Homo sapiens: one gene and its partners. The protein of the gene in region 2 purifies or fractionates together with the protein of the main gene of each other region. This does not show direct contact. Each region holds a gene or a part of one and is shown on either strand. Other genes may lie near its edges.

What was found.
Region 1: the proteins of BCAR3 (region 2) and TARS1 purify together in Homo sapiens (affinity purification with mass spectrometry; one large-scale study listed by BioGRID and IntAct). This does not show direct contact.
Region 3: the proteins of BCAR3 (region 2) and GOT2 purify together in Homo sapiens (co-immunoprecipitation; one large-scale study listed by IntAct). This does not show direct contact.
Region 4: the proteins of BCAR3 (region 2) and RTN3 purify together in Homo sapiens (co-immunoprecipitation; one large-scale study listed by IntAct). This does not show direct contact.
Region 5: the proteins of BCAR3 (region 2) and LPXN purify together in Homo sapiens (co-immunoprecipitation; one large-scale study listed by IntAct). This does not show direct contact.
Region 6: the proteins of BCAR3 (region 2) and PFAS purify together in Homo sapiens (co-immunoprecipitation; one large-scale study listed by IntAct). This does not show direct contact.
Region 7: the proteins of BCAR3 (region 2) and IARS1 purify together in Homo sapiens (affinity purification with mass spectrometry, with the first as the bait; one large-scale study listed by BioGRID). This does not show direct contact.

What each region holds. Positions count from the first base shown.
Region 1 is NC_000005.10:33,450,388-33,454,702, reverse strand, and holds part of TARS1 (threonine--tRNA ligase 1, cytoplasmic), read right to left. Parts: intron 2,363-4,315; coding exon of another isoform or gene 2,264-2,362; intron 1,415-2,263; coding exon 1,291-1,414; intron 1-1,290. UniProt on the Homo sapiens protein: Catalyzes the attachment of threonine to tRNA(Thr) in a two-step reaction: threonine is first activated by ATP to form Thr-AMP and then transferred to the acceptor end of tRNA(Thr).
Region 2 is NC_000001.11:93,675,066-93,679,380, forward strand, and holds part of BCAR3 (breast cancer anti-estrogen resistance protein 3), read right to left. Parts: intron 1-4,315. UniProt on the Homo sapiens protein: Acts as an adapter protein downstream of several growth factor receptors to promote cell proliferation, migration, and redistribution of actin fibers.
Region 3 is NC_000016.10:58,716,502-58,720,816, forward strand, and holds part of GOT2 (aspartate aminotransferase, mitochondrial isoform 1 precursor), read right to left. Parts: intron 2,755-4,315; coding exon 2,695-2,754; intron 2,188-2,694; coding exon 2,026-2,187; intron 1,800-2,025; coding exon 1,695-1,799; intron 313-1,694; coding exon 162-312; intron 1-161. UniProt on the Homo sapiens protein: Catalyzes the irreversible transamination of the L-tryptophan metabolite L-kynurenine to form kynurenic acid (KA). As a member of the malate-aspartate shuttle, it has a key role in the intracellular NAD(H) redox balance.
Region 4 is NC_000011.10:63,715,644-63,719,958, forward strand, and holds part of RTN3 (reticulon-3), read left to right. Parts: intron 1-3,058; coding exon 3,059-4,315. UniProt on the Homo sapiens protein: May be involved in membrane trafficking in the early secretory pathway. Inhibits BACE1 activity and amyloid precursor protein processing. May induce caspase-8 cascade and apoptosis.
Region 5 is NC_000011.10:58,554,854-58,559,168, forward strand, and holds part of LPXN (leupaxin), read right to left. Parts: intron 88-4,315; coding exon 1-87. UniProt on the Homo sapiens protein: Transcriptional coactivator for androgen receptor (AR) and serum response factor (SRF). Contributes to the regulation of cell adhesion, spreading and cell migration and acts as a negative regulator in integrin-mediated cell adhesion events.
Region 6 is NC_000017.11:8,262,511-8,266,825, reverse strand, and holds part of PFAS (phosphoribosylformylglycinamidine synthase), read right to left. Parts: intron 3,907-4,315; coding exon 3,833-3,906; intron 3,718-3,832; coding exon 3,561-3,717; intron 3,252-3,560; coding exon 3,190-3,251; intron 3,052-3,189; coding exon 2,890-3,051; intron 2,615-2,889; coding exon 2,489-2,614; intron 2,357-2,488; coding exon 2,225-2,356; intron 1,932-2,224; coding exon 1,701-1,931; intron 1,539-1,700; coding exon 1,358-1,538; intron 1,271-1,357; coding exon 1,187-1,270; intron 965-1,186; coding exon 809-964; intron 593-808; coding exon 473-592; intron 326-472; coding exon of another isoform or gene 303-325; exon of another isoform or gene 74-302; coding exon 1-73. UniProt on the Homo sapiens protein: Phosphoribosylformylglycinamidine synthase involved in the purines biosynthetic pathway. Catalyzes the ATP-dependent conversion of formylglycinamide ribonucleotide (FGAR) and glutamine to yield formylglycinamidine ribonucleotide (FGAM) and glutamate.
Region 7 is NC_000009.12:92,262,287-92,266,601, forward strand, and holds part of IARS1 (isoleucine--tRNA ligase, cytoplasmic), read right to left. Parts: intron 3,268-4,315; coding exon 3,194-3,267; intron 2,838-3,193; coding exon 2,643-2,837; intron 770-2,642; coding exon 683-769; intron 1-682. UniProt on the Homo sapiens protein: Catalyzes the specific attachment of an amino acid to its cognate tRNA in a 2 step reaction: the amino acid (AA) is first activated by ATP to form AA-AMP and then transferred to the acceptor end of the tRNA.

The DNA of each region.
Region 1 (4,315 bases), on a different chromosome or scaffold from region 2:
AACTAAACTTGGCATCACTAATTAAATGACATAGACTTTGTTCTCTGAAAACAACTGCTACTCACAATGTGACTAACTCATTGATTGCAATGGCCCAGGTTCTTTTGAGTCAATGTGCCCACAGCACCATGTCTCAGACACTGTGATCTGGCCTTTAGCTGGCTATGGAACATCACTTAGAAATTACATGTTGTTACTGGCCCAAAACAAAGGTGGTACAACCCGACCCCACAACACAATGACAAAACACGAGGACAAACATCTGTACACTGAAATCAAATGGCAGTACTTGGTTTTAAAGTAATCACTGGGATGAGTCAGAATACACCCAAAGCAATGTTTTCAAGATTTAGTATTAAGGTACCAAAGTGACATTAAAAAATTCTCGTAAGAAACTTGAGGGCTCCAAAATACATTTGAAAACCACTAATCCACATACATAAGTGAACAATCATCACTAAAACAAAATACTTTGTCTCCCCTTATATGATACACAGCCATGGAGAATTAAAAAGAAAATCTTGTCATCACATGCAGGTTGACTTTTATAGTGTTATCCAGCAGATTTGCATCTTAAGATGAGAAAAAAATACAGAAATTATCCAATAAAGGCAGTGCTTTGAAGTAAGGTTCAAATTTATTTGTCAAATGTACATATCTTGCTAGAGTGTTCATAGCTTAGAGGCCAGGCACAGTGGCTCACACCTATAATCCCAGCACTTTGGGGGGCCGAGGTGGGCAGATCACTTGAGGTCAGGAGTTCAAGACCAGCCTGGCCAACATGGTGAAACCCCATCTCTACTAAAAATACAAAAATTAGCCAAGTGTGGTAGTGCGCTCCTATAATCCCAGCTACTTGGGAGGCTGAGGCAGGAGAATAGCTTGAACCTGGGAGGTGGAGGTTGTACTGAGGCAAGAGCGCACCACTGCACTACAGTCTGAGTGACAAAGCAAGACTCCATCATTAAAAAAAAAAAAAATTAAAATAAAATAGTGTTCACAGTTTAGAAAACAATTTTTACTTGCTTAATCAATGTTTAATACAATTCCCAAAACATTTTCCCTATTGAAGTGTCTAGTAATGAAAAGACTTATTCAGCTTCACCCCTTTATTTTCTAAGGCAAGCACTTTTATTATGTTCCCTAAATGAAGGACAAAATGAAGATTTCAAATATGACAGTGAGACAACAATAAATGTTAGCCACCCAATCGCAGCAGGACTGAGCTGGAAAAGACTTCAAATGTGAATCTGCATCCTAAAATTCAATGAATACTAATCAGCAACTTACTGCCTGAGCTTCCTCATCCTCAAACTTGAGAAGCTCCAAGGTACAATCTTCTTCCAGAGGGCGGTCCAGGTCCCACACAACATTATTTACTTTAGCAATAACGGTGTTGTCGGCCAGGCCTTGACTTAAAAAAAAAAAAAAAAAAAAAAGTCCACACATATATAAGTACACACGAATCTAATTTGAAAACAGGAAAATAAACACTATTTTTATTATATATTGTTTTTTTATATTGATGTATCTCTATTTTTCTGAAATATAATGATAAAAACAACAAATTCCAAAAATGTACCTAAGAACCTAACTGGAAGATCCTGAAAATGCAGAACATTATCATTTGACATTGAATGCCTCCTGTTTAAGCAGATATGGCAACTCTGATAAATAAGCACTATCAATTTCCAATGGTTTGAATAATCTTAATTTCTCCAACAAATAAGTTTTTTTTTTTTTAATTTTTTAGCGACAGGGTCTTGCTATGTTGCGCAGGCTGGCCTCCTGGCCTGAAGCAATCCTCCAACATCAGCCTCTAGAGTAGCTGGGACAACTGGCACAAGTCACCACACCGAGTTTTCTCTTAATACACCCACCTTTCTCTTTCTACAAAGCTAAGCTATGTAGACTCCAAAGGAAAAAAAAAAGGCCTACTAAATAACTTCTCTGTTCCTCTTCCTGCTTAAAATGTACACCAGATCCTTTCTTTGACAGACAATGCTAACCTCAGAATAAATTCTGCAAATGCCTATGATAATATTTATAACAAATATAGAGGTAAAATGAAAGACTATTTAATAAAACTTTCCATATAATGTGAGTAAAAACATTACACACCCAATATACAACATCGAACATAAAGTATCATCAAGTGATGAAATATCAGAGCACACAGAGTGTAAAAGCTACAGGAGTTCTGAGGAGGGAAAGCAGTACAGGTCAGAGTCATCTGGAAAGGCTTTGAGGATAAAGCACTCACAGGAAGAAAAGAGGAGGCCATGGCATTCCAGATGAGGGAATGGCCACAGATGCAAGCAGAGATGCAAGTGAAGAGAGGTTTTTGCAGGAAGCTGTGTGACTAGAGCAGAGTTGAGTAGGTGAGCCAGATTATACATCTAAATGCACAGCTAGAGAAATAATAGTCTATAACAGCCTGGACATCTCAACGAAGGTAGGCAACATTCTACACTGTGAAGAAAAAGTATACACCCTTTACACTGTAAATCTCAAAGAAACCTACCACTAGAAGGCTTTAAGCTAGCCAGGCTTGCTGTGTTGGTGGCTCTCTATGTCTAAGGGTTTACAACAAAATGTATACAACTCCTATCTGAGGATCAAGAGAAAAGAACCAAACAGAAAGTAAACAACAAACTCCTTTCTATTTTCAATGCTCCTACTAACTTTACCATAGGTTATAAACAATGTTTTCTTTCCTCCTGAGATCAGATGGAGTCAATAAAATAAATACATGCATTTCACAAAACATAACATGAATTTGGCAGAGAGAAATGTATTTCATCATATTGGTGTAAAACAGTTTTCAGGAGATTAAAGAACTGATAAAAAGGATAATCATATTCTCTATATTCTTTGGGAAGAACATGACTTTTATCTTATGATCCAATATGGAGCCCCAAGATTCTAAGAATAGAGTTACTCTGAAAATGTAGATTACACATGGGCCATACTGGATCATTTCAATTTTTCAAAGAAGGGTAAAATAATCTTTAAGATTTGTAACAAAACGGCCAGGCGCAGTGGCTCACGCCTGTAATCCCAGCACTTTGGGAGGCCGAGGCGGGTGGATCACGAGGTCAGGAGATCAAGACCATCCTGGCTAACACAGTGAAACCCCGTCTCTACTAAAAATACAAAAATTAGGCAGGCGTGGTGGCGGGCGCCTGTAATCCCAGCTACTCAGGAGGCCGAGGCAGGAGAATGGCGTCAACCCAGGAAGCGGAGCTTGCAGTGAGCCAAGATGGCGCCAATGCACTCCAGCCTGGGCGACAGAGCGAGACTCCTCCGTCTCAAAAAAAAAAAAAAAAGATTTATAACAAAACTTCAAAGAAAAACCTTTTGACGCAAATGGAACATGTCTTTTTTGTCCTTCCCTTTCATATTCACCACTAATTATGTGAATCTTTAAATAGCCTGTTATCAATGTTATAATTTTTCACAGAACAAAAAGTTATTCTGGACTTTTGTAAAAATTTCATAAAGTATTCTCAGTGCAGATCAGTGACTTAACTCCAGAGCTAAAGCCCATCAATGTTTTATGTAATTCAACCTTTTATTTTTTTCCCTGGAGACGGACTCTCGCTCTGTCACCAAGGCTGGAGTGCAGTGGCTCAATCTTGGCTCACTGCAACCTCCACCTCCCGAGTTCAAGCTATCCTCCCACCTCAGCCTCCAAGTAGTTGGGACTACAGGTGTGCGCCACCATGACTGGCTAATTTTTGTATTTTTAGTAGAGACAGGGTTTCGCCATGTTGGCCAGGCTGGTCTTGAACTCCTGACCTCAGGTGATCTGCCTGCCTTGGCCTCTCAAAGTGCTGGGATTACAGCTGTGAGCCAACACGCCCAGCTATGTAATTCAACTTAGAATTTTATAGTTCTTGAAGAATATTTTTCAACTGAAGACTTGATAAATTACAATGTAATCTAGATCAACATTGTAGAAGGTAGAGGAAAAAGTTCCCAAACTAACAGAAGCCTAAATTTTAATGACACGGCTACAATCTCATTGTGTGACAACAGAGGAATCTATTAATCAACCTGACCTTCAAAATTATCTCTAAAATGAAAGGTTGAACTGATACGTAAAGGTCTATCCAGTTCTCTATGCTCTCACATAGAAACTTGCATGGTATTACAACTTTTTACTTCCTTTGGAGTAAGGTAGAAGAACTTGTAGGTAGAAGCACTTGTCAAATGAATGGAAACACTCCATTCACTTTGTAAAAAGTACTAACTAATGTCTGTGGTACAGTAGATGCTCATGGCTCATAGGCCTAACTGGTTCTGCTTCTAC
Region 2 (4,315 bases):
AACATTTAATGGCATCACTAGTGGAGTCTAATAAGAATGGGAAGTTTACTTATCTTCCTCCTGAAATGATCCTACATAGGAATTGTCCTGGGTTGGCAGCAAAACCAAGAGGGCAAACACTTTCAGAGTTGTTAGAGGCATATAAGCCATGCACAACCAGCAAAAAAAGATGATTAAGAGAGGACTCATAGTTGCAGTAATAAATGTACGAAAGAAAATATTATAAACTGTTAGATAATTAGCTCACATTATTTTCACTGCCCTGTAAATGATAAGAACAGGCAGGGATTATTGAAATTCTTTAGCTGCTAGAATTGTCTTCAGTGCCAGACCAGTCCTCAGTTGTGCTACACAGGATGGGACAGAATTTTTCTGGCAAAGACCCAGTGTTTATAAATAAATCAATGCACTCTAATTAGTGAACACGGGCTAGGGTCAGGGTCAGGAGGTGGGCCATTCTGCCATACACCAGCAGGCTCAGCTGCAGAGGAAAGCCACTGGGGTGGGGGCTGCATGTACATGGCCCCCACAGAGGGGTCAGGATCTGCCTGCCACCAGCAGGGTTAGGTAATGCCCATGGGTGCCTGTACAGTCGGGGAAGAAGAGACAGGAGAAGGGAAGAAGAAAAGAAAAAAAATGGTGGGGGGCAAAGGAAGCATGGAAAGGGAAAGGAGAATGGCACGTCAGGCTGTGTGCAGCAAGTAGCCCCGACACTCTCTCCTATCTAGGACCATGAGTAGAAGCATTTACCCTGAGCAGAGTCAGTGCCTCCAGCTCCAAAGCAAACTATGGTTTTGGCCTAAGACAAATTATATAATACATTTTTAAGGCCAACACACAGAGGAAAAGAAATAGGAGACAAAAAAAAAAAAAAAAAAAAAAAAAGGCTGGCCCCTGGAGATAGAGGCTCCAGGATCTGTCTTATACTAGTCATGATATCAGACTCTGGTCTGGACAGCACTGCAGGGTGGCCAAGCCCAACATACAGCCCTTCCCACGGGCTGGTGAGGAGAGCTGCCCCTTAGTCTGTTCTCCAACCCAGCAGCCCTCTTTCCTCACAAACCACCCTTTCCACTGCATTACTCAGGGAAGAGCTTTGCATGAAAATCCTCACTTAATAGCACTACTGCAGAGTCAGTTCTACAAAGGAACTGCGGACTTGGGACGTGGTTTGAAGACAACCAAGAAGAATGCAACCCTCCACAAGCTGATAGAAGTGGAGCCGAGACAATGACATTAGAGTGTGTAAAGAAAACGCATGTGTTTGTATGTGTGTGTACAACAAAACACACACGTTCCACTGCTTCCACATGAGATAGGGGAAAGTACAGAAGTCCTGGGGGTGAGATGGAAGGAGCATCTTTACTGAAGGTGTACAATCTTAACTCTGTCCTCGGTTCATTGTCAAATCCAGTAATTCTGGGGGCTGCCTGCTCCACGTCCAACTGGGACCACACAGAAGGTCTGCTCACAGTGGGTGCAGAACAATAGGACAGAGTCCTGTGCAGCCCCTCCCAGCTCTGGCCAGTACCTGGCACACTGTCAGCACTTGCTCAATGCTAACCATCCTTATTAGAAAGGAAACCAAACTCCCTAGCCCCACCGCCTGAACACAAGTGACGTAAACCGACTAGGATTCTTCCACCCTACACACACACATACACACCACAGTTGTGACTTCTCACAGACAGGACTGGGTCATTTCAAAGAACCTCGTGGGGAGGCCTGCAGCACCCTACAGAACTTCTTCATGTGCATAGGGCCACACTGTTGATCAAATCTATTTCCAATAGCATGATGGGCAAAAGTCACCCTAGCACCACTGCCTTTGGCAGCCTGTTTCCTCTCTGCTTCCCCAAGATCTACTTAGACTTCAAGATTGTCCTAAAGTGTTCTAAAATGTCCTTCAAGTTACCAACACCTCAATTTATTCTCCAATAACAAGGGATGTTAATACTTCCCCTTCTTACCTTCAATTCAACAAACATTTAAGTGCCTATTTCATACAAGACACCTGGAGAAACAAAGATGCCTAAGGCCCAATACCTGACTATGAACTCTAAGAGAGAATAATTCATAGAGGCCCTTATGCTGAAAGGAACAATTAATTTTGACAAAAGGACTTGAGAAGGCTCAGAGAGGGCAACAATAGAGACAAAGCATTTTGAAAAGTTAACATGTGGGGAAAAGCCTCCCGGGAGGATGGCAGATGCATAAAGGCATGGAAGTGACCCCACAGGCTCAGGACATTCCCAGTTGTGTGCTGTGGCTCGAGTGAAGCCGAGAAGCATTTCCCAGAAGCAACTTAGGTTAGCATCAGACCATGGAGTCTTGAAGGCCCTGCCAAGGTGTCTGGACTTGACTGGAAGTGCTAGGGAAGATCTGGAAGGGAAGGACCGAACCCAGTCTGTACCCAAGTAGGTGACTCTGGTTGTTCTGGAGGGGAGAGAAAAAGGAGGCAGGGAGGTTACTGAGGCTGATGGTGAAACCCATGGAGGAACAATGAAGAATTCTGACCTGGGGCAGCAGCTGGGTAAAGGGAGAGAAAGGAGAGAGTGATGAGACATCAGAGCTTGAGGCATCTGGCTGGAAGGAAGGAGCCTACAGCCACAGAAGGTGGTGCGATGCTGTAACATGCCAACTAGTTTCAGAAGGGGACCCACCCCTGCAGGAACCAAGCACAGCACTGGAGCTGCTGCATGTGAGGTATCAGCAAACAATTTGGTCTAAGAGGAGGTTAGATACTGGTATGCACAATTAGAAGTGAGGGCAGATGGAGATTTTTAGGAATCATCAACATAAAGGCAATATTTAAACCAGAGAGTAGATCCCTTAACTTGTTATTATCAGATGTGATAACAGCTGTGAAGTACCTCTTAAACTGTCAGGAATCATACAATACCCATGAATTATACCCCTGCTCTCTCTTACCATGGCTTCTTCAAGCCTATAAGGACCAAAGCAAGGAATGAGTTCTACTATAAAAACGTAAACCATTGGTTCTCAACCTGGCTACACATAAGAATCCTCTGGGAAGCTTTTAAAATCCTGATGCCCAAGCCTCAGCCCAGAACAATAAAATGAGAATCTCTGTGGGCGGGACATTAGCATCAGTCTCCAGTATTGACCAATGTGAAGCCAGGATTGAGAACCACTGGATTAGTGAGTCTTTTTGGTACACAGCAATTGAGTCATAATTGTTTACCTGCAAAACAGAATTCAATGATGATGAAGGAGTATCATTCAATCAATAGAAACATTGATTCTTCAATGCATACATTCATGGAGGGTCTCCTTTATGGCTGGCACTATGCTAGGTGTTGGGGACAGCATTAAACAAGACAGAAGTGGTCTGTCCTCATGAAGCTAATAATACTCTGGAGGAAGCAGACAATAAATTATGACCATAAGTACTGGTAATTCCCAGTCCATTTTTCTAGATAAGGGAAATAAATGTTCATTTGATATATATTCTCTGAGGGCTTATGGTGTACCAAGGCTAAGGATATAATAAATTAGACAAGCTCCTGCTCTCATGGAGGAATCCAACCTATACAAACAAGAAAATGAGTTAACATCCAAGTTGTAAGCACGCTAAGGAATATAAACAGGATGAACTGACAAAGGATGACTGTTGCGGGTGGAGAGCTACTTTACATTAGGGTGGACTGGGAAGGCCTCTCTGAAAAGGTAACAATGACATGAGACCTGAAAAAAGGCAAGGGAAGGAGCCAGTCAAAAAAAGGTCTGAAGGGGGTTCCAGGCAAGGGATCTGGCAAATGCAAAGGTCTTGCCATAGGAACAAGCGGTTGGAATGACAGCTGATGGAGACTAAACCCAAGTCTCCAGCCTCTGGCTCCCATGTTTTCTCCACTTGGAAATATTTCTGTCTCAATGTCCCTAGTCATTATATACTTCTTATGTACCATTTGATTTTTTAAAAATAAAATGGTATGACTCAGAACCTAGGCTTTGGAGGCAGATATCTACAGGTTCAAATCTCTACTCTGCCACTGACTTACCAGCTGTATGGCCTGGGACAAGTTACTCAACCTGACGGTTTCTCATTTTAAAAAATGACTTAACAGCTATTTCATAAGATTGTTGTAAAGATTAAAAGTGATTGTGTATACAAAGTTCTTGAAATACTGCAAACACTTAGTAAATAGCAGGTCCCCTCTAAGCAGGACAGGGGCTGCTCTTATCTATCTTGTCAGATAAGAGTCACTGTATCTCTGTTATACTGAGGGTTCACAAAGGAAGTAACTCTGAGAGTTCACAAATGAAGACTGCAACTGGGAAGGATGGGGAGGGA
Region 3 (4,315 bases), on a different chromosome or scaffold from region 2:
TAAAATCTACGATACTGGTCTTTCATCTTAGGGTAGGGAGGGACATGGACATGGATGGACACACACACACACACACACACACACACACCCACAAGCTCTATGCCCTCGTGGCATTCTCTCCCAGCATGAGAGCATGTGTCATGCTGGATGCTGTAGCTTACCATATAAGCCCATGTTCTTGGCATATGATTGGCAGAGGCAAACATTAATGCCCTGTTCGATGAAGTGGCGCACAGCCCAGGCATCCTTATCACCATCACCACTGGCAAAGCCTTGGTAGGCCATGTCAAAGAACGCAAAGAGATTCCTTTTCTGAGAAGGAACGAAAGATCGAAGCTTTAGCAGTCTTTCTGAAGAGGCCCCAGATGTTTATAAAAGTCTGAAAGATGTTTATGTGAGGTGGGCATGGTCCCAATAAGCACAATAAGCCTTTTCTGGGGCTAACGTAATCCTGGAAGACTCAACTTATACCCAGGACTCACGAGACAACATCATTAGAACCATTTTATCTTGAAAGTGCTCTCCAAATGCTGTTTCTGTCTCATTCTGTTTGCAGCTTAGATTTGACAGAAGTTAAAGAAAGGGAAACTGGCCAGGCATGGTGGCCCATGTCTATAATCCCAGCACTTTGGGAGGCCAAGGTGGGAGGATCACTTGAGCCCAGGAGTTTGAGATCAGCCTGGGCAACAAAGTGAGATGCTGTCTCTGTGAAAAATAGGAAGAATTAGCCAGGCAGGTGTGGCACACATGTCTGTAGTCCCAGCTACTCAGGGGCTGAGGTAGGAGGATTGTTTGAGCCCTGGAGGTAGAGGCTGCTGTGAGCTGTGACTGTGCCACTGCGTTCTGGCTTAAGGCGACAGAGTGAGACTCTGTCTCAAAAGAAAAAAAAAGAGAGAGAGAGAAAAGAAAGGGAAATGAAAAGGAGTGAAAAGGGAAAACAGGGACATGAGACAACAGGAATAACATTTTCCTCCCTAGGAATTTTGACTAGTGTCTTCTCTGACAGCTGGCTACACTTTGAGAGTGATCATGGCAATGCTGCAAAGGAGAGGACATGAAAAAGTGTTTAAAAAGATCAATAAGCAACCACTGACCAGGGCGAATATAGGCATCAACAGCAGACATCCTGGGGCCAGTGGACAGGTTTTATCAGAGTTCCCTACATCCAGGATGAGGAAAAAAATTATTTTCTTTTTTTCTTTTTTAGAGACAGAGTTTTGCTCTTGTTGCCCAGGCTGGAGTGCAGTGGCACAATCTCGGCTCACCACAATCTCCACCTCCTGGGTTCAAGTGATTCTCCTGCCTCAGCCTCCCAAGTAGCTAGGATTACAGGCATGGGCCACTACGCCCAGCTAATTTTGTAGTTTTAGTAGAGACGGGGTTTCACCATGTTGGCCAGGCTGGTCTCGAACTGACCTCAGGTGATCCACCTGCCTCGACCTCCCAAAGTGCTGGGATTACAGGCGTGAGCCACCGCGCCCAGCCAAAAAAAATTACTTTCAAATACTCATGCGTCATCAATCCCAGAACTGCTAATCACGCAAATGGGGAGCCCTTTTCTGGCAGCTTATCCACCTGTGTGGACATTTCACGCAGGTTCGAGGTTAAGACTCTCTGTTGAGACATTGCCAAATTAAGCCTCCAAAGCTGGTTACTAAACACAGAACTGTCGCCAGTGAGTTCATCGTCCTCACCTTCACCACTGTTGCTATTTCCTTCCACTGTTCCGGACGCGGGTCCACTCCCGTGGGATTGTGGGCGCAGGCATGCAGAAGAAGAACACTCTGCTCTGGTATTTTCTAAAGAGAAAAACAGCCAAGAGACGACTTTGCAGCTTTAAAGGAAATGGTTTATCTGAAATGCCACAGGATCGTCATCATTTGATAAGTAACAAAGGTAACCAGAACCCTGGGAATCAGCTCTTCCCCAGTATTTTAACTCAGATATTGGGACATGGTGGGAGACATCAAATGTCCGCAAGCAAGGAGTTTTATTCACCTCTCTCACCCTGAAAGCCACACTTACTGAAATATCCTCCACAGCGCCTGTGAAGTCAAAACCGCAAGTCTTGGGGTCATAATACCGATAACCTTGTAGCTGCATGCCAGCATCCCTGAAGATGGGTGTGTGGTTTCCCCAGGTTGGTTTGGGCAGAAAGACATCTCGGCTGAACTTAAAAAATCTTTGCTAAAAGATGGGACGAAAGGAAACAGAAAAATGAACAAAGGAGAGGCAAAAAAATGTTGATGTGTTTTATTGAGAGAACATTTTTCTCTGCTGAAACCCAGTTTCTCTCTATGGTTGAGAAGCAGTATTGACTCAGCAGTAAGACTGCCTGGGTTGGAATAGTCTCTGACAGTTATACTGGCCATGTAGCCAAGGACCTTTCTGGGTCTTGCTTTCTTCACTTGTAAAGGGGGTTAATTGTACCTCTCTCATAGGGATTAAACAAGTTAAAATGCAAAAGCTCCCTAGTAAATAGTAAGTTCCTAGTGAACTGAATTTATCATCATCACTAATATATCTTTCCTGTAATTTCTTCAAAGTCCTTTCATTTTTTCATGAGAATAGGACATCTGCAAACTTCACGGAAAGAAGAAATCTACTTCTGCATCAACAGTCAAATACACACACAACAGGAAGCCCTGTCATCTGGAATTTATAATTCTTTCCTGAAGAAGCTTCCAGACTCACCAGAAAACTGGCTCCGATCCTTAAGGCTCCAGTTCCAGAAATGGTCTGCACAGTGACAAACTGAAGGAGAGATACCCACGGTCAGTGATGTGCAACACTCTCTATACAGGCCCAGACCCAGGGCCACTGCTTTGTCCAGGACCTTTCATACTTCAGAAGCTCATTCTTTATGGCCTGTCAGTATCATTTCATGTTACACGGGAAACTTTCAGAACACAAAAATTCCTCCTCAATATGAAAAAGGGGTGAATTATATAAAAGATATAAAAAGACACTGAGAGGCTGGGTGCGGTGGCTCATGCCTGTAATCCCAGAACTTTAGGAGGCCAAGGCGGGTGGATCACCTGAGGTCAGGAGTTCGAGACCAGCCTGGCCAACATGGCGAGACCCTGTCTCTACTAAAACAAAAATTAGCTGGGCATGGTGGCGCATGCCTGTAATCCCAGCTACTGGAAAGGCTGAGGCATGAGAATTGCTTGAACCTGCGAAGTGGAGGATGCAGTGAGCCGAGACTGTGCCATTGCATTCTAGCATGGGCAAAAGAGTGAGACTCTGTCTCAAAAAAAATAAATAAATAAAATAAAAAGACACTGAGAACAGTCACTACATTAAAACATTACTTTAGAATTATACAAAGTAGAATGACTCTCTAAACATCAAAGTTCCTTGAAAAGCAAGTCAACAAGTATACAAGGATAACATTACAACATTTTAAAGGTTTTCTGGCCGGGCGCAGTGGCTTATGCCTGTAATCCCAGCACTTTGGGAGGCCGAGGTGGACGTATCACCTGAGGTCAGGAGTTCGAGATCAGCCTGACCAACATGGAAAAACCCTGTCTCAACTAAAAATACAAAATTAGCCAGGTGTGTTGGCGCATGCCTGTAATCCCAGCTACTCAGGAAGGCTGAGGCGGGAGAATTGCTTGAACCCAGGAGGCGGAGGTTGCGTTGAGCTGAGATCGTGCTATTGCACTCCAGCCTGGGCAACAAGAGCGAAATTCCATCTCTAAATAAATAAATAAATAAAGGTTTTCTAAGAGGTCCCCTTCTATGTGTTTTCATAATCTGAAAATATTCATGTTTTGGGTAATAGGAAGATGCCTAAGGTGAATCTCCTTATTCAAATTGGTCAACTTTAAGGGACAAACAAGAAATTACCATAGGTTTAAGAGGTTTTTGTTTGTTGTTTTTAAAGGTGTTGTAGAAGTACAAGGCTCTACAAAGCACAAATGTATTTTTCTGGACTGGGGTGGTAGTAGATTAAAGAGGGAAAAACCCAACTAAAAAATTATTTTAAATAGTTTGTCCTGCAAGCTTTGGCATGATGGAAATAAAAACCTCACTGTAGGTCCGATGATACTACGATTCACAAAGGCACAACAATTTTTTTTTTTTTTTTTTGAGATAGGTTCGTGCTCTGTCACCCAGGCTAGAATGCAATGGCATAAACTTGGCTCACTGCAACCTCCACCTTCTGGGTTCCAGGATTCCTCCCATGTCAGCCTCCCCAGTAGCTGAGACTACAGGCGTGCACCACCACACCTGGCTAATTTTTGTATTTTTAGTAGAGACGGGGGGGCGGGTCTCACCATATTGGTCAGGCTGGTCTCGAACTCCTGAC
Region 4 (4,315 bases), on a different chromosome or scaffold from region 2:
CTAGACTCTGTCTAAAAAAAACACACAAAAAACACACAAAAAAACATATAAGCTGAACCTCCCCTGTGGGGTGGAGTCAGTTTGACTCACCTCAGAGTTGTTTGAAGAGAGAGGTTCCCAAACAGTTTTACCATAACCTTAGTTCACTGAATGTTTTGTGGTAGAAACACTGACTAGTAAGTTCAGTAACAATGCATGGCTCAGATTGTGGAATATTTCTGATTTAAATGTAATCTGTAGTACTTCACACTTCAGATTTTTGAACCTTTTAACCTACAATACTGGGCTTCATTTCTGTTATGCCCTAATCTAGTCATGCTGAATATCCATACTGTATAATGGTAGATGCAAACCATGTTTACTAAATTAGAACTACATATGAATTACAGTTTACTTCAAGTGTTTTGTTTTGGTAATATAGCTTTGCCACCAAGCTTTTACAGTTTTCCTTGAATGTACAAAGACTTTTTATTCTAATAACCAGATTACAGTTATACTATTTCTAAAGCTCAGCTCTTATTACATCAAGTTTCAGTGATGTGTTGAAGTAGGGGAACTTTATATGGCATTTCAAAACATTTTCATAATACTGGAATTTTATTTATTGTAAAATATTTTTGTCTTTAATAAAATAATTTTGAATGAAGTCATAATTTTGCTTTTATCTGGTATTTGGATGTTTACATGAAAAAGGGAACATAAGCTGAATAAAGGTAATCCCAAAAGAACTTCTCTGTCACATTTTCCCAGTTACTCATTCATGCTCAAGGCATTGCTGTCCTGAGCCTACTTAGGTCTCAGCTGACCAAGCTGAATCTTTGATTCACTTATTTGGGGCTATTTATTTAAGACCCACTTTGTCCCAGCTCCAAAGATACAACAGTATGCAAGAAAGACAGCGCCCAGGGTGGGCGTGGTGGCTCATGCCTATAATCCCAGCACTTCAGGAGGCCGAGGTGGGCAGGTTGCTTGAGCCCAGTAGTTTGAGACCAACCTGGCAATGTAGTGAGGCACCAGGTCTGTAGAAAGTTTAAAAATCAGGCCAGGCGCGGTGGCTCATGCGTGTATTCCCAGCTCTTTGGGAGGCCGAGGCAGGCGGATCACGGGGTCAGGAGATCGAGACCATTCTGGCTAACACGGTGAAACCCCGTCTCTACTAAAAATACAAAAATAAAATTAGCCAGGCGTGGCGGCGGGTGCCTGTAGTCCCAACTGCTTGGGAGACTGAGGCAGGAGAATGGCGCGAACCCGGGAGGCGGAGCTTGCAGTGAGCAGAGATCGCGCCACTACACTCCAGCCTGGGCGACAGAGCAAGACTCCGTCTCAAAAAAAAAACAAAAAAAAAAAAAAAAGAAAAGAAAGTTTAAAAATTAGCCAGGTGTGGTGGCATGTGCCTGTGGTCCCAGCTACTTGGGAGGCTGAGGTGGGAGGATAGCTTGAGGCCAGGAGGTCAAGGCTGCAGTGAGCCACAATTGTACCACTGGCACTCCAGCCTGGAGGACAGAGGGAGACCCTCTCTCAAATACAAACAAACAAATAAATGAAGTAAGAAAGCACCAGCCCTTGGGATATTTGTTTTGATCCTTTTCCCCAGTAAAAATTTGTTAGAGTGGGAAGTTAGAAAACAGTGTGGTAGATTGATGGCTACTATGGTATTAACTGATAAGACTTAACGTATTACTTTGAGAAGGATATTTTCTATTTTAAAAGTAATTCTGGAGTTAACTCTGTCTTTTTTTTTTTTTTTTTTTTTTTTTTTGAGACAGTTTCACTCTTGTTGCCCAGGCTGGGGTGCGATGGCGTGACCTCAGCTCACTGCCATCAATGTCTGCCTCCTGGGTTCAAAGGATTCTCCTGCCTCAGCCTCCCGAGTAGCTGGAATTACAGGTGCCTGCCACCACGCCCGGCTAATTTTTTTGTATCTTTAGTAGAGATGAGGTTTCACCATTTTGGTCAGGCTGGTCTCGAACTCCTGACCTCAGGTGAGCCACTGCACCCAGCCAAGTTAACTCTGTCTTAACCAAAGAAATCAATTTGCACAGTACAATATTGATTTAAATGACAAGTTAGTACAAGAGATTTTGGAGGGGCCAGGCGTAGCGGCTCACACCTGTAATCCCAGCACTTTGGGAGGCCAAGGCGGGTGGATCACTTGAGGTCAGGAGTTAAGAGACCAGCCTGGCCAACATGGTGAAACCCCATCTCTTCTAAAAATACAAAAATTAGCTGGGCTTGATGGTGCCTGCCTGTAATCCCAGCTACTTGAGAGGCTGAGGCAGGAGAATGGCTTGAACCTGGGAGGTGGAGGTTGCAGTGAGCTGAGATTGCGCCATTGCACTTCAGCCTGGGCAACAAGAAAAAGACTCCGTATCAAAAAAAAAAAAAAAAGATTTTGGAGGGGGTCCACCTTTTTCAGTACCCTTTAGTTTAGAACATCACAGCTATTTATTTGTACATGGGACAGATTCTCCCTGTGGATAGAATAGAATAATTCTAGTCTCATTTTTCAGATTCAGGAAGGGCCCATTGCATCTCCTAAAAATCAAAAAAGTCTGGCCACTAGTTTTTTTCCTTTTCAGATTGTGAGACTAACAGATTTATAGAGGCAGTCTGTGCTCTGAATTGTTCAGCTTACAGATTGAAGTCTATCAACCCTTTATAGTATCAGGTTATTTGTTTTGTATAAATTATTTTGCTTTTGTTGATTAGCTCTATCAAAGAATAAAAAACCTCCCAAGATTTCTCAATCTTACCGCCCTTCTTTATGCTTTCTCTGTACAATGGAAAAGTAGACCAAAAGTATTTGTCATGAAAATTTTTTATCATTTGCAGTTTGTGGCATGATATGGCTTTTCTGTTTCACTGTTGGCAGTTTTATGCATGTCCTGTAGGATAACTTGATCGTTTTGTTACATATTTATGTGTGTATATATACATCCTGTGTGTGTATATATATATTTATGTAATTTAAAAAATAAAAAGCATGCTGCTTGGCTTGGCTAGCTAATGTGTAATTGTACCTGGTAAACAATTTTTTTCTTTGAAATTCTGATCATAGAGGGATTGAGCTCTCTTTGCTCTGATGAGCCATCTTCAGAAATTATGACTTCTTCCTTTCTTTCATCTTCTGAAATACATAACACTGGCCTTACAATACTACATGGAGAAAAAAGCCATGTGTTAGGGAGCCAGCCTATTTTAGCCAAAGAAGGAAAAGACCACTTGGATCTTCTAGATATGAAAAAGATGGAAAAGCCTCAGGGGACCAGCAACAACGTATCAGACTCTTCAGTTTCTCTTGCAGCAGGAGTTCATTGTGACCGTCCTTCTATTCCAGCCAGTTTCCCAGAGCATCCTGCTTTTCTCTCAAAGAAAATTGGTCAAGTGGAAGAGCAAATAGATAAAGAGACCAAGAACCCAAATGGGGTATCAAGTAGGGAGGCTAAAACTGCATTGGATGCTGATGACAGATTCACTTTGCTGACAGCCCAGAAACCACCTACTGAGTACTCTAAGGTAGAAGGCATTTATACATATTCTTTGTCTCCATCCAAAGTTTCAGGAGATGATGTTATTGAAAAGGATTCCCCTGAATCACCATTTGAAGTAATTATTGACAAAGCAGCATTTGACAAAGAATTTAAAGACTCATATAAGGAGAGCACAGATGATTTTGGTAGCTGGTCTGTGCACACTGATAAAGAATCATCCGAAGACATTTCAGAGACTAATGACAAGCTTTTTCCACTGAGAAATAAAGAGGCAGGACGTTACCCAATGTCTGCATTGCTCAGTAGGCAGTTTTCACACACAAATGCAGCACTGGAAGAGGTGTCCAGATGCGTGAATGATATGCATAACTTTACTAACGAAATACTGACTTGGGATCTGGTTCCCCAAGTGAAACAACAGACCGATAAATCTTCTGACTGCATCACAAAAACTACAGGACTTGACATGAGTGAATATAATTCAGAAATTCCAGTTGTAAATCTTAAAACTAGCACTCATCAGAAAACTCCTGTATGTTCTATTGATGGGAGCACTCCCATCACTAAATCAACAGGTGATTGGGCAGAAGCATCTCTCCAGCAAGAAAATGCTATTACTGGAAAACCTGTACCTGACTCTTTGAATTCCACAAAAGAATTCAGTATCAAAGGTGTGCAAGGCAATATGCAGAAACAGGATGACACACTTGCAGAATTACCTGGATCTCCACCTGAGAAATGTGACTCTTTGGGTTCTGGAGTGGCCACAGTGAAAGTGGTTTTACCTGATGACCACCTGAAAGATGAAATGGACTGGCAGAGCT
Region 5 (4,315 bases), on a different chromosome or scaffold from region 2:
TCAGTCAGGTGAGCCATGAGCTCATCCAACTGAGCAGCTGCTGACGTTTTAGAAGGTGGTGGTGATTCCTTTGGCTCTTGGGCTTCACTATAGAGGGAAAACAAAAAAGTCATATGAACAAATCAAAACTCAAATAATGTTAAACCACACATAAAGTACTGGAAATGCAACTGTAATAATGAATCCCCTGGATATGAAGCTAAAATCAGAGATGGGGGTATTTTAAAAATATATTAATATGTACTAGACCAAAAATCTAAACAAGTTCTCTCTGCCTTTTTTCTCTATTTCTCCCTGGTCATCTAATTATAAAAAGTATTATATCTCCTGTCAGTTTTTGTCAAAAAATAAAAATAAACTAGAATATAGAGCAGGCATCAACAAACTAAGGTCCTTGGATCAAATCTGGCCATGTCCATTCATTTATCTACTGTCCATAGCTGCTTTTCTGAACAGTTGGGTAGTTGCTACAAAGACTTTATAGTCCACAAAAGCCTAACAAACTTACTATCTGCCTCTTTACAGAACAAGTTTGCAAATCTCTGGTGCAGAAAGTTTAGATAATATATATGATGATGATTTCATATTCATATAATTGTAAGTAAATTATAAATAAATAAAACTTTGGACCCAATAAACAGAATACAGATTCTATTCAAGTAGCTGCATAAACATTAGTAAAATTAACTATGTATGAAGATACAAAGTAAAGCTCAATAAATTTTTAAAAGTACATCATATAGACCATATTCTTAGATTGGAGTGAATAGAAGTACAAATTAATCATAAAAACTATCCACTTAAGAAAAAACAAAGCACTTCTAAATAATTCTTGGGATAAAAAAATTAAACTGAATTTTCAAACCAGTTAGAAATAGCAATGAAAACACACACACACACACACTCACACACATGCACACACACACACACACACACACGCCTTTGGGAGTTGAAAGCTAAATGTTATTGAGAAGAAAATATATAAATAGACTTAAGTGTGATATTAAAAAGTGAGAAAGATCAGAAATAAATAAAACTTCCAAGTCAAGAGTCTCAGAAAAATCTAAAATAATTCAACAGAAGGAATAAATGCATAAATTAGTGAAACAGAAAACAAGAAATAAAACAAAAACTGACAGTTTTTGGGGGATCATTGTATAAAATTCCCAAATACATAGAAAAATATGGAACATTACCTAATTCATTCTATAAATAGCACAGAAACTTTTTAAAATCAAAGAAAAAACGATGTGCATGTGTGAAGAGAGAAGGTTAAATAAAATCAGTTGAAATGTGTTTTTTTTAAAAAACATAAAAAATTTTAACAAGTCATGGCTAGGTGGTGTTTATACTGGTTATCCAAAAATAGTTTGAAATTCAAAATTAGGAAAAAGATTAATATAATTCATTAACAAATAGGAGAAAAGCTTTATAAACACAATGATATGTGCTGAAAAAGCCGTGGAAGACATTTAACAACCATTCCTGTTGTTGAATATCAAGAAAAATAAGAAAAAGTCTATAAACTGATAAAATGTTTCCATAAGAAATATATAGCAAGCCTCATAATTATTAAGCAGATATCTAATTAAGAGATAAGTTGGACATAGATCCTATTATCACTGGCAATCTTCAACATTATTCTAGAATACATTATCAAACACATTTAAAAGTAAAATAAGAGAATTATATATTTGAAAAAAAGGCAGCACATCCTCAGTCTTTCTTTTAAAATAGATGGTATAATAATTTCCCAGGAAAATGTAAGATAAATGACTGAACAACCATTGGAATGAATAAAAAAGATCAGGGTGGTGATTAGATACAAGAATGAAATGAAACAGTCTCTTTCTTATTGATCATCAATAAGCAGTTTGAAAATCCAATGCGAAAAAAAGAACCTGTTCACAATTCTAACAAAAGTTGTAAAATATCAAATAATATATTTAACAAGAAATGTGTAAGAATTCTATGAAGAAAAACCATTGGCAGACATAAAGGAAGATCCACATATCCAATTAAACAATGAGCAAAGGACCTGAATAGATATTTTTCCAAAGAAGAAATAAAAATGGCCAAAAGGTATATGAAAAGGTATTCAACACCATTAATCATCAGGGAAATGCAAATCAAACTATTATGAGATACCACTCACAAACAGATGGCTATTCTCAAAAAGTCAAAAGATGGCAAATGTTGGCCAGGGTATGGAGAAAAAAGAACCTTTATACACTGTTGGTGGGAATGTAGATTGTTACAGCCATTACAGAAAATAATATGCAGGTTTCTAAAGGAATTAAAAATAGAAATACCACATGACACAGGAATCCTTCTTCTGGGCATACACAAAATAAATGGAATTACCACTTCGTAAAGATCTCTGCACTCGTATGTTCATTGCCACAATATTCACAATTCACAATAGCCAAGAGGTGGAAACAACTTAAGTGTCCATCAATGGATGGACACCAATGGAATAAAGAAATTGTGAAATATGCACACATACACAACAGAATATTAGTGAGCCTTAAAAAAAGGAGATTCTGCTATTTGTCATAGCATTGATGAATTGGAAGGACATTATACCAAGTTAAATAAGAAAGAAACATATTGCATGATCTCACTTATAGGTGGAATCCTCTTTTGTCATTTAAAAAGGTCAAATATGTAGATACACTGGTGATGAGAGGCAGGAAAGGGGGTGAAAATGGGGACATGTAGGTTAGAGAATATGAAGTAGCAGATATGTAAGATGAACAAGCCTAGAGATCTAATGTACAACATAAGAACTATCGGTAATGAAATTGTATCGTATTTAGGATTCCTGTTGCAAGAGTAAATTTTGGCTGTTCTTGCCACAAAAACAAACAAACAAAAATGTGTAACTGTGTGAGATAATAAATATGTTAATTTGCCTCACTATAGTAACCATTTTACTAACTATTCATAACCCATAACATAATATTGTACACCTTAAATATGCACAATAAAATTTATTTTTAGAAAAGAAAGCCTATATAAATGAAGATAAATATTATGTCAGTTTCCCCTAAACTGTAAATTCAATGTAATTCAAATAAAAATTCTGATATAATTATTCAAGCTAATTAATAAGATGATGTTAACATTTATGGGATAGAACACTCAAGACAATTTTGGAAAAACAAAATAGGAGGGGTGTGTGGTGTCTCACACCTGTGGTCCCAGCACTTTGGGAGGTCCAGGTAAGAGAATCACTTGGGACCTGGAGTTGCGAACAACCTGGGAAACATGAGAGAGACCTGGTCTCTATAAAAATTAAAAGTTGTAAAGAAAAAAAAAAACAGGAGGGAAGATTTGTCTTGATAGATGTGGTGTCTTATAGAGTAACAATAATTAAATTTGTATGATGTTGGTAAAGAAGATAGGGCTGGGTGCGATCGTTCATACCTGTGATCCCTTTGGGAAGCTGAGGCAGGAGGACTGCTTGAACCCAGGAGTTTAAGACCAGCCTGGGCAACATAGGGAGACCCTGTCTCTACAAAAATTTAAAAATCAGCCAGATGTGGTAGCACACATCTGTCGTCTCAGCTACTCAGGAGGCTGGGGCAGGAGGATCACTTTGGCCCAGGAGGCCAAGGCTGCAGTGAGTTGTGATCACACTACTGCATGCCAGCCTGGACAACAGAAGCAGAATGAGACCCTGTCAAAAAAAAAAAAAAAAAAAAAAAAGAGAAGAAAGGAAAGGAAGAAGAAAAAGAAAAACAAATAGGTCAAAGGAGTAGATTAGAAAACCCAGAAACAGGCTCCTGCACCTAAAAGAACTTCCTATATGAGCAATGGGGCATTTCAAATCATCCAAAACAGACTATTCGACTCAAAGAATAACAACCTATTTGGTACAAAATAAATATGGATCCCCAACACACCAAATACATGAATAAATTTGAGACAAATTAAAGATAGATATCAATATTTTTAAATGTAAAGATAATAGAAAAATGAAGAATATATTTTACAATTTGGGGTAATGAAGGTTTTCCTAAGATGGACATAAAATTCTGAAGTGATTTCAAAAATGAAAAAAATATTGATACAGCTAAGTTCACAAAACTTAAATATAAATAAATATTTAAAACATAATATTCAAGATTTTAAAGAAATGTATAAATAATTTAGAAAAATAGAAACCTGAGCTAAAGATTCTTTTAAAAAGCAGGTTTCAGAAAAAGAAACTCAAATGTTTATTACTATATAAAAATACCCTCAACCTCATTAATCTTTAAATTTGCAATTTAAAGCAATGAGATACTAATATTTACCTATTAGTTGAAAT
Region 6 (4,315 bases), on a different chromosome or scaffold from region 2:
AGCACCTGGGCCAGGTCTGGCTCCTGCACCTCCAGCACGAGGCCTGGCTCCTCAGCGAACAGCACAGACAGGACTGGGAGAGCAATGTGGGGAGTCAGGGGGATGCAAGAAGGGCCAAGGGAGTTGGGGCGGGATCAGGGAAATGCAGGAAGGGCCAGGGTGAGGGTCAGAGGGATGCAGCCAGAGAGTAGGGTAGGGATCAGGGAGGATGAGGGCTAGGACGGCAGGACTGAGGATGTTTCATCATGGACATCTCAGGGATGGGAAGTCTCAGAGGGGTGCAGTCAGGAACATGGTGGGTGTCAGCCAGTTCCATCCAGTTCAGCTGTCAGAGAGACAGCACAGAAAAGCTAGTCAGGGAAGACTCAGGGAAAGGGGACTGGAGGGCACTCCACTCTTTAATATATTGGAAATGGGGTCTGCAGGGTAGAGAAGGCAGCCCGGGCCTGAGACTAGACCCCAGGTTCCTTACCATCAACCCTGGGGACAGGCACATCCACCTGTAGCCCGCAATTTCCAGCAAAGGCCATCTCCAGCAGGCATGTGACGAGGCCTCCGTCACTGACATCGTGGCCTGAGCAGAGGAGGCGGTCTGGAGGAAGGAGAAGAAAGCTCAGCAACCTCGGGACCCAAACCTGACAGCCCCACCCCACCTTCCGGAGTCAGTCCATCAAGAGTGTGTGTCAGAATGTCAGGGGATCTGGGGTACATCGTCCATTGGAGTCCCTTTTGCCCCACTGCTCAGATGGTGAACGCCTGCTGCACGCCTGGCACCCTGTGCGCTATCTCCCCAGGGGTCTTCACTCACCTTTCAGCAGCCCCTGAGTGATGCTGAAGGCCCGCACCAAGTTCTCAGGAAGGTCCAGGTCTGGAGGGTGTTCCCCAAGCTGGGAGAAGCACTGGGCCAGAGCTGTGCCCCCGAGCCGGTGCTGCCCAGGGCTCAGAGCCACATAGAGCAGATGGCCTGGGGAGACGGGGAGGGGTGAGGGGAGGGGAACAGCTCAGGAGGACCCATCCCTGAGGGGCTCACAGCACTGCTATTCCCAGCATGTGGTGAGACACCTAGACAATCAGTCCCAGAAAACACCACAGCCCAGTGTTGAGATGGGGGCCCAGCACTCACAAAGCAGGAGCCAAACAAAGATCACACAAGCAAAGATCACAAAGGATGGGGCCATGTCCATACCTCTCCCTTCAGGATGCTTGAGGTCTGGGGTCACAGTGGCTGTGATGTCTGGGCAGACGGCATAGGCTGAGATGACCAGTGACCCTGTAGAGCAAGGAGGAGTCCAAAGGAATGAGTTGCCAACCCAGCTCCATAGTTCCTCCTCCCCTCCCTGGGGCTCCCACACCTCACCAGGAGCCCGCACGGTCTCAGTGCCAACCCGAGCAGCCATGCTGAGGGAGTCCTTGCCACCATCCACTGCCACACCCAGGGCTGCCATCACTGCCACCATAGCCTCACAGGCATCCGCCAAAGCTGCGCCCTCCCCTGGGAGCTTGGCTGCCCACATCCAGTTCCCGCTACACTTCACATCCTGGGGGTGGCAGAGGCACAGCATTAGAGGGGAAGAGAAATGTGGAGAGGCCAGGGGTGCAGGCGGACTGGGAGGTTGCAACATGAAATGAAGGGCTACAGATGGATGTGGAAGGGTCCTGAAGCCCGGGGGCTCCAGGATAGAAGCTGTGGGAGAACTCACCCGGAGGTCAGTGACCAGAGCAAACACCAGGTTGGTGAGGGCTTCGGCCACGGCCAGCCGGGCGGCGACTTTTGGGTCCAGCAGGCTCTTGACTGGCTGTTCTCCCAAGGCTGTGGCAGCCCCTATGAGCTCCTCATGGCTCAGTGCCACAACCGCTACATCTGCCAGAGGAGTTTGCAGGGGCCCCACGCACTGCTGCTGGGCCACCAGGCCTCCCACAGAGCGGTCCACCTGTGGAACCAGGTGGGGTTAGCAAGAGAGCAAGGGACAGGGACAGCCTGAGCTCCCGCACATGCCCCCAAGGCACTCAGGGCAGTGGGAGGCCTGTCTTTCCCCCAATGCAGACAACAGCTCTACTTAGAAGGTGGGTAGCAGGGAGACCAGGCCATCAGGGTGGCTGCCCTGCCCCTGCTGCTTCCTGCAGGGCCAGGCAAAAACCCCCACAGCACTTTCTAAGGGTGGGAGGGCAGAAGAGGCTGAGCGGAGGAAGGAGGCAGGGGGCAGAGGAAGGGTGCAGGGAGGACCTTATTGGTGAGGTAGCGCTTGCTGGCCACGGCGGGCAGCCTCAGAACCCTCTCCAGAGCCTGGTGCACGCTCAGCCCTGGGGGCAAGGCCAGAGGCTGCAGCATGGGGGGCTTCCTCTGCAGGAAGAACTCCTGCAACACAGACAGCGACAGGCAGTGTGAACACCTGGGGCGGGCTGGGCACACAGGCGACAAAGTGCACGTAGGGTAAAGGGTGGTGTGGAGAGGACCACAGGAAAAACCCATCCCCTCAACCCCACATACCTTCCGAGGCATCTTGCCCAGCACCCATTCGAGCTCCAGGTCCACAGGGGTTGGCAGGGGTGTCGGGGGGGCATCCCCCTGGCCATTTCTTCTGACAGGACACTCCCGATCGTCCACCAGCACTATCTATAGACCACAGGGACCCCACCCAGAGGGGATGAGACTATGAACACCAGCAAGGAATGTTCCTAGAAATCAGGGCACAAATGTGCTTTCCACTCCTTGTTTGGTTTCCATATTGAGTCCCTGCCCCTCCTTGGATCCAACATTCCCCACAGCTTGTTTGCCACTACCTCCCATCTTCCTCTCGTCTCTCTCCCTTGACAGCTCTCCCTCTAGCCCATACCCAGGTGGCTCATGTCTGCCCCAGTGTTTGCTCCCAACTCCCTGGGCCAACTCACTCTCCGGTCTCCAGTGATGGTGCCCACGAAGCAAGCCGGGCAACGTTCACGGGCACTGACATGAGTCAGGAAGTCCCGGTTGGGGGACCTCAGCAGAAGAGCATTTGATTCCTGGTACTCAGCCCCCCAGATTTCCAGGGCATTCAGGGTTGGGTCCCCAAGCTGCACAGCCACGGCGGGGAGGAAAGAGAAGGGCCAGTGGGCACTCCCACGTCTCATGTTGTTGCAAGAGAGATGGGTGGAAGCGGGCTGGGGCTGGCAGGGGTGGGAAAATGTCACACTTCAGGGGACGAGACCCACCTGGAAGCGGCTGGTGTAAATGATGGCTCCAGCTGGGTCACTCAGCTCTTTTAGGACATTGCCTGGTGAGAGGGTTGCAAGGAGAAGCAGTGACCTAGTGGTGGTCAGGCAACAAAGGGCAGTCCCTGGCCTCCAAAGGGGCCTGTAATTTGGTGTGTTCCTGTGTCAACTGCTGCCGCACCCTTACCACCAATCATCCCACGGCAGCAGGCTTCCACCCTTCCAACCCTGAACCTGTCTAGAATGTACAGAGCATGGAGAATGGGACCCAGAGCTGGGTGGTTGGTTGGAGATTCCTGATACCTCTCCCTAAACGAAACCTGGCAGGATACCAGGCAGGCCCAGTCTCTTGTTCCAACTCCTTTCCTCACCATTGCCACCAGCGCCCTGATCATGAAGGCTGCAGATGGGGTTTCCCTTGGGGGCCTCCACACAAGCCCTGATCACACGGTTCATCTTCTGTTCCATCTCCGGGTCTCCTCGCTGCACAGCCCCAAAGTCCAGGTCACTGGTGTTATCTCCCTGCACCTGGGGGCATATATGGCATAGCTCAGCTCAGCGAGACTGGAAGCTCCTATACGCTCCCCTATGCCTGGGGCCCGGTTATATCAAGGATTCTGCACCTTTAGCAATTCCCACTCACCTGCACAGATGAAGCAGCTCCACCTCCAACTCCAATCCTGTAGACGGGACCTCCAACCTTTACAACTTCCATGCCTGTAAGAAGGGAAGGCAGAATCAGAACACTGGGGAAGCCACGAGAAGAGGCCTCGAAAGCAAGGCAGCGTGAACACAGAGGAAGCTGATGTTAGGGAGAAGCCTGACCAGCTTTTTTTTTTTTGAGATGGAGTCTCGCTCTGTTGTCCAGGCTGAAGTACAGTGGTGTGATCTCAGCTCACTGCAACCTCCGTCTCCTGGGTTCAAGCGATATTCCTGCCTCAGCCTCCTGAGTAGCTGGGACTACAGGCGCCTGCTATCGTGCCCGGCTAATTTTTGTATTTTTTCAGTAGAGACAGGGTTTCACCATCTTGGCCAGGCTGGTCTCAAACTCCTGACCTCAGGTGATCCGCCCACCTCGGCCTCCCAAAGTGTTGGGATTACAGTCGTGAGCCACCCTGCCTAGCCC
Region 7 (4,315 bases), on a different chromosome or scaffold from region 2:
AATAAGGATGCACAAAATGTTAGGTGACATCCTCTTCCTCCTCACACAGCATATAAAGTAGGATTTCTGTGTGGGTACTCAGCACAAATTCTATTTTAAAATATTTCATTTTAAAATTTTCATTTATGTTTATTTTTATTCTTAATGACTAGAGGTAATAAAGTAAAGGAAAAATGAGACTTCCTTATAATAGCAAAATGTGGGAAATAATGCCCATTGGGAGGAAGTTTCAGATGAGGGGAAGAATGGGATCTGGTGGCAGAGTACCTCGGTCAAGCCCAGTGTGGCTGTCACTAGCTTTGATCCTGGGCACCTGTGGTCTCTAGAACCCACAGCTTCCTCGTGTGTTAAAAAAAGGACAACAAAATCTACATGAAAGGACTGATGTACAGATTAAATAAGATCTATAAGCAAAAGTATTTCATAAAGTGCTAAGTTTAGTAAATGCTATTTTATTACTAGTAATATCACTAGTAGCATTATGTTACTAGCAGTAGCACAATCTGAAAGTCCTCCCCTTCCTCCTCCTCCATCAGGCTTAGCTGTCACACACTCCTTCTTGAGAAACAGTGGAGACAAAGCTCCACCTGTCACTACAACAAAGTTGACCGCTCTCACGCACTCCTTCTTAAGAAACAGTGGAGACAAAGTTCCACCCGTCACTACAACAAAGTTGACCTACCTTGCCAGGACAAGCCCATTCACAATTACGTTCTTGAAAGGCGGTTGTCCAAAGAGGGCCGTGGCCAGCACCAGCAGGGTATAAAACCTGAAAAAAAACCCCAAACAGTTCAATAAAAATAGAAATGAAGTCCAAGCATAAGAAAGAAACTGTATTTATTCATTGAATTTCTATTTTTGATAAGTCACACTTCTTGAGAATCACTTAAAGCAATGATTCTTAATCCTGGTTACTGGAGACCAATCAAATTACTGTCTAAGATTTGAAAGAAGCATTGAAATAAACGTCTGGAATGATTTACTGACCATTTCTCTGTTACCAGAGCTCCCAGGAAGTCTGTGTGGAGAGCCACATGGCAGCACTGGGTGGCCTCTCAGGACCACCCAGAAGCACCTAGCTGAAGATGAAGGATGGGTTTTGAATTTGGCACAAGATCATATGGAAAAGACAATTTGATGACAAAAGATGCAAAATGCACTCTCACCCAAAAGTGATAAGGCAGACTAGAAAATGCTTTTATTCTGTAAAATGTTATGTACCTCATTTATGTGCTACCTAGCTTGTTTCCCAAATGAACTCATATCCCTGACCACTGTCCTGGGGGTGATGCTTTCCTGCCTCTCTTACCTAGTCCTGCACTCTGAGAACATCAAGGGACATGAGCTGAGGAGACCAGACCCCATAGTTAACATAAACACTGATCCAGATATCCCTCCCACTTCTAAAGGAGAGTTGGGAGGAGCCCTGGTGCCCAGGAGAGGTAGCCCAGGCCTCAGGAATGGAGAAGGAGGCAGGCACCAAGGACACGGGATCCACATGAGGACTGTTACCAGCTAACAGACTTTGCTACTCCTCAAAGGAACAAGCTCATTGGTAAGGCATCTACCCCTTTCTAAAAACAGAATTTGTGCTGGGTAGCTGTTCCTATAGACAAAAAGGACTGGAATCTGAAGACAGCACATTCCAGAACATGAAGACTTGAATTCAATGATTACCCAAAGCTGTCAAAGAGAGAAAATGACACCAACAATTCCTTTAACACACCCCTGCAGAAACATTACTGTGAATGTATAATTAAAACCTGGGCTGGGCGCAATGGCTCACGCCTGTAATCCCAGCACTTTGGGAGGCTGAGACGGGTGGGTCACTTGAGGTCAGGAGTTCGAGACCAGCCTGGCCAACATGGTGAAACCCAGTCTCTACTAAAACTACAAAAATTAGCTGGGCATGGTGGTGCATGCCTGTAGACCCAGCTACTTAGGAGGGTGAGGCAGAAGAATTGCTTGAACCCAGGAGGCGAAGGGTGCAGTGAGCCGAGATCACACCCCTGCACTCCAGCCTGGGCAGCAGAGTGCAAGATTCTGTCTCAAAAAAAAAAAAAAAAGTAAATAAAGCCTGGGCCAGCAAAGCCAATCCATGGAAAGAAAGTAATTCACCTTCTTCCAATTAAGGAACTGTTTTACATAAGGCACCAGATAAAAATCAATGCCCAAATCCTCTCTCATATGTATATTTTTTAAAAATCTGGATTTTTTTAGAATGTTGATTTATAAGGCTAGCCTCAATATCTGAGCACATTACCAACTATCCCTCAAATTTCTAGCACCCAAACTACTGTCTTTTATGCAAATACTCAAACATTTGAGTAAATGATCTGACGTAAGCTAAGAACACATAACTTTTTTTATCATTTTAACATCCAGTGTAACACATATATTCCAAAATGCCAGTGAGATCATTGAAATTGTAAAACTACAGCCCTATTGTAGTGGGAGAGTCCTACTCAAAAGGCACTTTAATGTCCGTGCTTGGTGGTGGAGGGGAGAGGGCAGGAATGTAGCCTGTCTTATTTGCCACAATCTCTCCATCACCCAGTAGATAAATGGCAGTGACTTAGTAAAATACTCCCTAAATAAAATAAAATCAATAAAACACGTGATGAAAGAACAAGGAGGCATACCATCCTCTGGTTTGGTCGATGCCCTCGGCAATGAAATCTGCAGGAAAAGCATCCTCAAACTCCCTCTTGTTTTCAAACGGGTAATGAACCTGAGCATAGGGCATGCTGCCACTCTCAAACCAACAGTCAAACACTTCAGAGATGCGGTGCAAGGATCCCTTCCCACAGCGTGAAGGAATGGTCAGGTGGTCAACACTAACAAACAGAAAAGTAGTCATTTCTATTAACTGTAAGCATAACAGAACTTGCAGTTTAATTGCTAATAGGAAACACAAAACCCTGACAAGATATTATACACATTTGCAAACAGAAATATCAGCAATTCTCAAAGGCTTTCAGAGAGCACCATGAATCCTCCATCTGAAAGGTTATGCACCATTCACCTCACATTTCACAAGGACAGAGGCCACAATACTGCAATATGACATGAGTCATCAGCAAAGTAATTCAGCAAGCTAGTCACTTCCATGTGTGGCTCTGTAATCTGCTAGAGACCAGGTCTTAATAGGAGAATCGTAAAACTGAAGTGAATCGAACATTTAGAAACTGACCTCTCTCTGTGGAGATCTGAGATCTTTGCTCCTGACAGTTCTTCAAGTTCCGCCACTGACCCAATGCATACCACCTGTCAAAAACAAAGTTCAATAGCAGGAGCTCCTTAGAGCCAAACAGAGCATACTGAGTTAATTTATATAGCATGCATGTTTACTTTGAGAGACTGATGATTTTCTTTTTCCTTTTTTTTTGAGATAGGGTCTCACTACCATTGCCCAGGCTGGAGTGCAGTGGCACAATCACAGCTCACTGCAGCCTCAGCTTCCTGGGCTCAGGTGATCCTCTCACCTAAGCCTCCCAAGTACCTGGGGCTACAGGCAGGCACCACCTCACCCAGCTAATTTTTTGTATTTTTAGTAAAGACAGGGTTTCGCCATGCTGCCCAGGCTGGTCTCAAACTCTTGGACTCGAGCTATCAGCCACCCTCAGCCTCCCAAAGTGCTGCGATTACAGGCGTGAGCCACCCAGCCTGAGACTGATGATTTAAAGGCACATTAACACACCAATCTGGGCCGAAGGATAGTATTTGCTAATGTGGCTTCTCTCTCATGAAAGACACAGCCTACTCTTAGTCTCTGAAGAGGCCAGGGTTGCCACTGCTCCTCTGTTTCCACCCCAGTATCAGAGGGAGTCCCTACCTAGAGAGAATCTTAAACATTCATAGCCATACTCTCAATGGATATTAAGGGTTTATTATGTGCAAATTGTCAAAGTAACTGGCATAAGTGAAACATCTTAGATTATTTCTCTAAGGCATTTTAGTTTCCTCCTGGCACCTGAATCTGGCTCATTAATCTAGAATCTTCCCAAGAAAAAGCTAGAGCTAAATTATAGTCATACAGTGCTTAATGGTGGGAATACATTCTGAGAAATGCATTGTTAGGGTGATTTCCTTAGGCAAACATCACAGACCTAGATGGGATGGCCTAAAACACAGCTAGGCTATATGGTGGAGCCTATTACTTCTAAGCTACAAACCTGTACAGCATGTGGCTGTACTGAATTCTGCAGGCAACTGTAACACAATGGTAAATGCTCTAGTTTTCATATGGTTTGTCCCCAGCAAATCTCAAGTTGAAATTTAATCCCCAGTGTGGCAGTATTGACAGATGGAGCCC